Homo sapiens: one gene and its partner. The protein of the gene in region 2 purifies or fractionates together with the protein of the main gene of each other region. This does not show direct contact. Each region holds a gene or a part of one and is shown on either strand. Other genes may lie near its edges. The genes, in order: PGAM4 and CCSER1.

Region 1 (3,831 bases), on a different chromosome or scaffold from region 2:
CAGCCAACAAGGTCCCACATGATTTCCCATGCCTGTCCCCCTCAAGTTTACCTGGCCTCCTCTTCTACCACTCACCAAACCCTTCTCTGTGCCAGTCATACTGGCCTCCTGGCTGTTACGCATGCAAGGATGACTCCTACTTCAAGGCCTTATTTTAGCTATTCTCTTGCTTTGGGACTTTCTTCTTCCAGATAACTGCTTGGCTAACTTCTTTGTCTCCAAGTCTTTGTTCAAATCTAACCTTAATGAGGACTATGCTGACCACCCTATTTAAAACTGCAACCTACATCCCTTCCACACAAACATACTCTGATTCCCCTTACCTCTGCTTTTTCTTTTGTTTTCATAGAACGTACCACCTTCTAACATACTCCATAACTTGCTGATTTATTCTGTTTATTGCTTATTGTCTGCCTTCCTGTGGTGGTTTTAAAATACGCCCACAAATTCTTTGCTACTCCTTCCTTCAAGAGGTGGAATTTAATCCTTTCCCCTTCGGTGTGGCCTGAACTTAATGACTTGTTTCTTGTTTTTTGTTGTTGTTGTTGTTTTGGTTTTTGTTTTTGTTTTTGTTTTTGAGACTCAATTCTGTCTCGCAGGCTGGAGTGCTGTGGCACGATCTCAGTTCACTGCAACTTCCGCCTCCCGGGTTGAAGTGATTCTCCTGCATCAGCCTCCCCAGTACCTGAGATTACGGGCGCATGCCACCACACCCGGCTAATTTTTTGTATTTTAAGTAGAGACAAGGTTTCACCATGTTGACTAGGCTGGTCTCGAACACCTGACCTCAAGTGATCCACCCGCCTCGCCCTCCCAAAGTGCTGGGATTACAGGCATGAGCCACCACACCTGGCCTAATGACTTGTTTCTAATGAATAGACTACGGTAGAAGCGACAAGGTGTGACTTCCAAGACTAGGTCATAAAAAACATTGCAAGAGGAGAAAAAAGCATTGTGTTTTCCTTGTTGTCCTCTCTCCTGAATCACGCAATCTGGGGGAAGCCACCTACCAAGTATGAAGACATACAAGCAGCCTTATGGAGAGGTTCATATGGTGAGGAACTGAGGCCTCATGTCAAAAACCAGCAAAGACCTAAGGCCTCCCGCCAATAGCCAGGTAAGTGAACCACCTTGGAAACTGCTCCTTCAGACCTAAGTTAAGCCTTTAAACTACTACATCCCCAGACACCATATTGACTACAACTTCATGAGACACCCTGAGCCAGAACTACCCATCTAAGCTGCTCCCAAATTATTGAGTCATAGGAAATGTGAGATAATAAATGTTTGTTGCTTTAAGCCACTAAATTTTGGGGTTATTTGTTACACTGCAATAATTAAGTAATACACTTCCCACTAGAATAAAAACTCCATGAAGATAGGACTCTGTTTTTTCACTGATATTAGGCTGAACCACATGAAATCATCATAGTCAAACACCGGCAATTTCATATAAATCAATCTAATATATCCCATGGAAACAGTGGTTCCTCTGGTGAGGGGAAATGAGTGGTTAGGGAATAAGGGTGGGAAAAAGAATTTTCAGCGTATAACCTTTTGTACCTTTTACTTCAAATGGTATAAAAAGTATTGCAGCCCACCGCCATGGCCGCCTACAAACTGGTGCTGATCCGGCACGGCGAGAGCACATGGAACCTGGAGAACCGCTTCAGCTGCTGGTACGACGCCGATCTGAGCCCGGCGGGCCACGAGGAGGCGAAGCGCGGCGGGCAGGCGCTACGAGATGCTGGCTATGAGTTTGACATCTGCCTCACCTCAGTGCAGAAGAGAGTGATCCGGACCCTCTGGACAGTGCTAGATGCCATTGATCAGATGTGGCTGCCAGTGGTGAGGACTTGGCGCCTCAATGAGCGGCACTATGGGGGTCTAACCGGTCTCAATAAAGCAGAAACTGCTGCAAAGCATGGTGAGGCCCAGGTGAAGATCTGGAGGCGCTCCTATGATGTCCCACCACCTCCGATGGAGCCCGACCATCCTTTCTACAGCAACATCAGTAAGGATCGCAGGTATGCAGACCTCACAGAAGATCAGCTACCCTCCTATGAGAGTCCGAAGGATACTATTGCCAGAGCTCTGCCCTTCTGGAATGAAGAAATAGTTCCCCAGATCAAGGAGGGGAAACGTGTACTGATTGCAGCCCATGGCAACAGCCTCCAGGGCATTGCCAAGCATGTGGAGGGTCTCTCTGAAGAGGCTATCATGGAGCTGAACCTGCCGACTGGTATTCCCATCGTCTATGAATTGGACAAGAACTTGAAGCCTATCAAGCCCATGCAGTTTCTGGGGGATGAAGAGACGGTGTGCAAAGCCATAGAAGCTGTGGCTGCCCAGGGCAAGGCCAAGAAGTGAAGGCCAGCGGGGAGGATACTGTCCCCAGGAGCACCCTCCCTGCTGGTCTTGTCCCTCTGCCCCTCCCACCTGCACATGTCACACTGACCACATCTGTAGACATCTTGAGTTGTAGCTGCAGATGGGGACCAGTGGCTCCCATTTTCATTTTAGCCATTTTGTCGCCTGCACCCACTCCCTTCATACAATCTAGTCAGAATAGCAGTTCTAGAGCACAGGTTCTCAGTCTAAGCTGTGGAAAAGCTCCCCTTATCCAACAGAGTTTAAAAGTAGTGACTTGGGTTTTTGTGAGTGCTTTGTTTACTAAGGACTTTGGGGAGGAACATGCTAAGCCACGACCAATGAGGAGAAGCAACAGAGCCTGTCTGTCCCCATGAGCAGAGTCTGTCCTCTGCTCTTCTGCAGTCAGGCCACTGCCTGGGGGCTCTAGTCATTCCAGTGGAAGATGAATGTAATCTGCATGGTGATGTGACAACTGTTTCCTCCTTGACCCCAGAGGATCTGGCTCTAGGTTGGGATCAATCCTGAATTTCGTTATGTGTTATATTTACTTTTATTAAAAAAGTATAGTATATATTAATAATACAAAACAATAACCCTTCTGGGGTTTCTTGTGGCGGTTGAAATAGTCCCACATGTGGTCATCAGAAAATAAGCCATTCCTCATACCAATATAGGATCAGCTCCTTGACCTCTGAGGGGCAGGAGTGCTTCCTGGTGTGTGTATTAGAATCCCTTCCTGCCTTGTTTCATGGCAGTGAAATGCCTCTTGGTCCTGTCCAAGTGTGTCTTTCACTGATTTCTGAATCATGTTCTAGTTGCTTGACCCTGCCACATGGGCCCAGTGTTCATCTGAGCATAACTGTACTAAATCCTTTTACCAGATCAGTATAATAAAGGAGTGATGTGCAATTAAAAAAAAAAAGTATTACAACATCATTTTAGTTTTGGTGAGCTCAGAGAAACTTAAGCAGAAAATGCTGAACCATGCCCGCTGCTACTAACAAAGCAAGATGATTAATGGACTCTTGTAACTTCTCCAACTAATTTCTGTGGAGCTTTGAACAATTAGACCACCCAGTCTATGGTATTATGTTATGGAAGCCTGAACTAAGACATATGCATTCTTTTTTAAATTGGGATATAATTCACATGCTATAAAATTCAGCCTTTTAACCTACAGAATGGGAGAAAACATTTTGCAATCTACCCATCTGACAAAGGTCTAATATCCAGAATCTACAAGGAACTTAAACAATTTACAAGAAAAAAACAACCCCATCAAAAAGTGGGCAAAGGATATGAATAGACATTTCTCAAAAGAAGACATTTATGCGGCCAACAAACATATGAAAAAAAGCTCAACATCACAGATCATCAGAGAAATGCAAATCAAAACCACAATGAGATACCATCTCACACCAGTCAGAATAGCAATTATTAAAAACTCAGGAAACAATA
Region 2 (4,420 bases):
GAAAGACAGGGAACAAGGAATCTCCCGTTCCTCCCCAATGCCTAGACAGTAGTACTTTGCAAACGTTAGGCCCTTTATTATGAGCATTATGATGAGTAATAAAATGCAATAAAGGGTTGAATAACTATTACTGTAAAAATATAACAAATTTTTCATTTTCTACTTTGTTTTATCTAAATTAACATTCTATGGTATAAATAATGTATCTTTAAAATAATAAACAGTTGCTGATTCTCTTAACTGTCAAAAAACAAAATACTCATAAATAGGACTTTTAATGATTGCAATAATACAGTTCATCAATTACATTTTTTAATTCCCTATTATATCTATGTTCAAATAGTTTGGGATAGTTGAGGTAATAACCCTCCGAATGGGGTTCTCCATCTGAGTTCTAACCTAATATTTAAAGCTGCACATGCTTCCGTGTTGAAAATGTATTTCAAAGTAATATAAATCTAACAAAATCAAAATATCAAATCCTTAACTCTGCTTTGTTTTTCAAAGAACAGGACTGTTTAGGAAAGCAATAAAACAATACAAACAACAGTTGGTTTGTTTTGATCAAAATAACTAATTAATTTAAATGAAGACAAATCACTCTGACAATAGGTTGACCAACTTCTCTTTTTTCTCTGTGAAACTATTGAAAGTGTGGTTACAACATGGAATTTCAATATTTGAAAAACATTGTCTTGGCAGGCTTTTAGAGACATTTCAGTTTGCAATATTAAGGATACTGTCCTACTACTAAACCCAGTCACAGTTCTATAAAAGTACAGGTTGCTACTTTTAAGAGAAAACATTCATTTTATAAGCACCGTGACAGGCACTGTCCCAAGGCATCTTTAAGTTTCAAGTTACGTATCTGGAACATGTACCTGTTATAAAGCAAACAGAAAGAGAAACCAAGACAAATTATATTATAGCCTAGATTACCAGTATTTTAGGTCTTCCCTTAATAACCAGTTTTGAAGGAACCAGTGATAACTGACCCCCACCTAGGTGTCCTCTTATCCGTTTTCCCTAAGGCTGTTAATAAAACCAGCTTTACTTTAAACGTGTACACATTATTTTTAATAGTCCTTGAGGGGCAGAGAAGGGAGGATGTGTGTTACATTTCAATAGGAAGGTATTCAACTGTAAAGATTTCAGAAATGAAAGCTGTTGAAACCAAGTAGGTATTTTCTGACTTGTAAGTCCTACTGACTGCCTGAAAAGGTAAGAGGGGTGGAGAAGAGGACATAAAAACATTAAAGGGCAAAGAATCTGTAACTTCTAAGAAGTATTTTTTTCTACCTGTAAAAATATGAGTTTTTTTTTTACTTCATTTCATATTCCATGTCCCACGAGAGGAAGGGGAAGCATAATTGCTTCTAATTCTGAGGCAGGGAGAGGAGAGAGAGAGAGAGAGAAAGAGAGCAGTTCAGGATACACTAAAAGGAAACCCCAAGAAATTTCACAACTCTTTGCCATAAATAGCCTTTCTTCTCACTCTGGATACCTCCTCCTTTACATCAGCAAGGCTCAGCCTCCACGCACGCAGAAGCACCATTCACAAATCCCTCCGTCACCCTTACCCCTTGCTGGCACCGTGTGTACGAGTCCCTGGGACACAAGCCAAAAGTCGAAGGGGCCAGGGGGCCACATGCGGTTTCAGCTTACGGCTGACTTTCTGCTCAGGTGAACCAACCCACTGGTTAGTCCAGAGCGCGCGCGCGCGCGCACACACACACACACACACACACGCACACAACCTGGGGCCCTTGACGCTCCACCACAAAGCAAGTGGTTCAATCTAAGTCGCTGCCGTTACTGCTGCCTCTGGGCAGGGTCTTGCTTCCAATCCAGGAAACTGGCGCCAGAGGACAAGCAGGCGGAGGCAAGAGGTGGTCCCGGCCCCGCACTGCGGTTCCTCCGGGAGCCCCTGGCTCCCCGCCCCCTCCTCCCCTTCCCCCTCTTCGCCGCCGTCCCCGCCTCAGCACCCGCAGCCCGGGGCGCCAGCGCTGACCGGTCGCCTCTACCTGCGGGACGCGAGTGGCGAGGAAGGGGAGCGACCCGAAGCCTGCGCCAACTCTCGCCGCCTTGGCCAGCGCTCCGCATCGCCCTGGAGCGGCCGCCGCGGCCGCAGGCAGCAAACCACGCAGCAGCGTGGAGGAAATGGCCACGCGGCGCACTGGGAGTCGCGGGCCGGTGGTGAGCGAGCCCGCCCGCCTCCTTCCCACCCCGCCCGCAAGGCCAGGTCTCTGCGCCGAGCACGCCGGGCCTGGGCGCGCGCTGCTCGCAGGCGGCCCCGACACGGCGCGGTCACCTGCCGAGCGGTCATCCCCGCGTCCGCCTGCGGCCGGCCCCGCAAAGCGGCGACGCGACGCGCGACCCGCTGAGCGCTGAGGCACCAGGGGCGTTACTACCTTGAGGGCTCCGTGCGCTTGTTAAGGCTCCTCCCGGGCACTCAGGGATTTATGTCTTCGGGGCACGGGGGTGTCCTTCCTGGTCCCCCTCCTCTGCCCTCCCTCCCCTTCTCGGCTGTTGGGCTCCTCTCCACTCCCAGTTGCACAGAGTCCAGCTGCGTTATTTAATAATCCTCCTGCTCCTCCTGCCTGCGCCAGCGGAGCTGCTCTGCCCGAGCCACCGCTTCCCAGTCAGTCATGTTGAGACAGAGAGAGAGAGAGAGGAGAGGCGGATTGGCAGTAGGTCGGCGACTATTTGTGGTGAGGGAGAGAAGAGCAGAGCAAGAGGAGGGCAGGGGAGGGACGTGGGGAGGCGCTTCCAAGTGTGTGAGTGCGCGGAGTGTGACTGTGTGGGGAGCGCGAGATCCACCTCCCCGGCAGGCCGCGCTCCGGGGCTGTGAGGAGGGCGGGCCCAAGCGCGGCCTTTATACAAGGAGGAGTGTGGTGGGCTGGGCGGGGCGGCTTGGAGGGCGGTGCCCGGCCCACTGCGTCCGCCGGATTCCACGCACGCATCCTCTGGCATCGACGCGCGCACACCCACTGCTGGCCCGCTGCTGAGTTTTCATTTTAGGGGAAGCAGTATCCCACCGTGCTGACCTGGCCTTTTCCCCCAGTCCATCCTAGTGCTTATGTGGAGTTCAAGTGCATAGGCAGGTCAAGACTAAAGAATAGGGGAAGTCTGAAGAGACGTGAAGTGACTGCGGGGATGCTGGAAATAAATGCACTGTATTTCTCCTCTCCAAGGTTCCGATGTTATCTTTTTTCTCTTCCTCCTGTAAGGGAAGGAATTACCAGATTCTTTCGCCGCTTTTCCTTCTCACCCACACAATTCACATCCTGACAAGTGTCTTCATTCCTCAGTAACAAGAAAAGAAACCTAGCTTCTTTCCTTTAAGCAGGTCACACCTCCCAGGAACCATTTGCAGCAATCAATTCTGTAAGATAATGCAAGCACTGCGACTGTGTCCGAGAGTGGAACTTGTGTTCCTACAAGGAAGGCCCTACACAATACAGGCATTACAAGAGAATCAGCTCAATTTGACATCATTTGACTGATGGTCCCCTGGAGAAAATTTGCCAGTTTAGAAATCGAAAAGACTTTTGATGCATGGTTCTGTTGCCTACATAATTTATTTTCCCCTGATCCTCTCTCCCCTTGCACTGCCTCATTTCCTTTCAGGTTTACACTAAGTACTGAACTCTTTCCCATCCATCCCCTTCTTTATCTCCACTCCAGTATATTTATGCCTTTAGCAGGCAATACAGCAAATGTAGTGCATTTAATTCTGTGTGTGTGTGTGTGTGTGTGTGCGCGCGCGCATCTGTTTTTAACCCATTCTGGTAGAATGTAGGACCATTTCTAGGTAGAAAATGCATCCCCAATATTAAGTTTGTACGCCTAACATCACCTCCCTTACCTTCTGCCCAGATTACAAGATGTTGTGATCAGGTGCACTGAGGTATTGAGAAAAACTTCCAGAAATCAAGTGATCTACAGTTTTTTCAAGGTGTGTTTGTGTGTGCGCGTGCGCGTGCGCACGCTCTGTGTAATCTAACTGGCTATGATCTAACTTCTGAAATGTGGTTATATTGGGAATAAAAGCAAGATGTATTTTTTAAATGAATCTGAGTGGTCAATGTATATTACAGCATGGGGACAACTCTGCTTTTGGGAGACAATTATAGGAAACATTTTTCATAAATTAGACAAAAGGAAGATAAGATTTAGGAGGCTACGGAGGAGGCGGCAAGGTTGACAATTCAGTTGTCCTATCTTCTTCCATGGCTTGTGACCATCGTACATCTTTAGGGTTTTGTCATATGCTGGCACCTTATATATTCTCCACATATTTTACCCTTTCACATTGATGTTCCTGTCTCGTAATTCTTCAATCTCTCATACAGAGTTTAGCAAACATTAAAAATGATTTAAGCATGTGATCAAGACCTAACAAAGAAGTGATATTAAG

The links.
Region 1: the proteins of CCSER1 (region 2) and PGAM4 purify together in Homo sapiens (affinity purification with mass spectrometry; one large-scale study listed by BioGRID and IntAct). This does not show direct contact.

The regions. Positions count from the first base shown.
Region 1 is NC_000023.11:77,967,413-77,971,243, reverse strand, and holds PGAM4 (phosphoglycerate mutase 4), read left to right. Parts: upstream 1-1,605; coding exon 1,606-2,370; 3' UTR 2,371-3,295; downstream 3,296-3,831.
Region 2 is NC_000004.12:90,125,823-90,130,242, reverse strand, and holds the start of CCSER1 (serine-rich coiled-coil domain-containing protein 1), read right to left. Parts: upstream 2,850-4,420; 5' UTR 2,412-2,849; intron 1,918-2,411; exon of another isoform or gene 1,758-1,917; intron 1,706-1,757; exon of another isoform or gene 1,581-1,705; intron 1-1,580.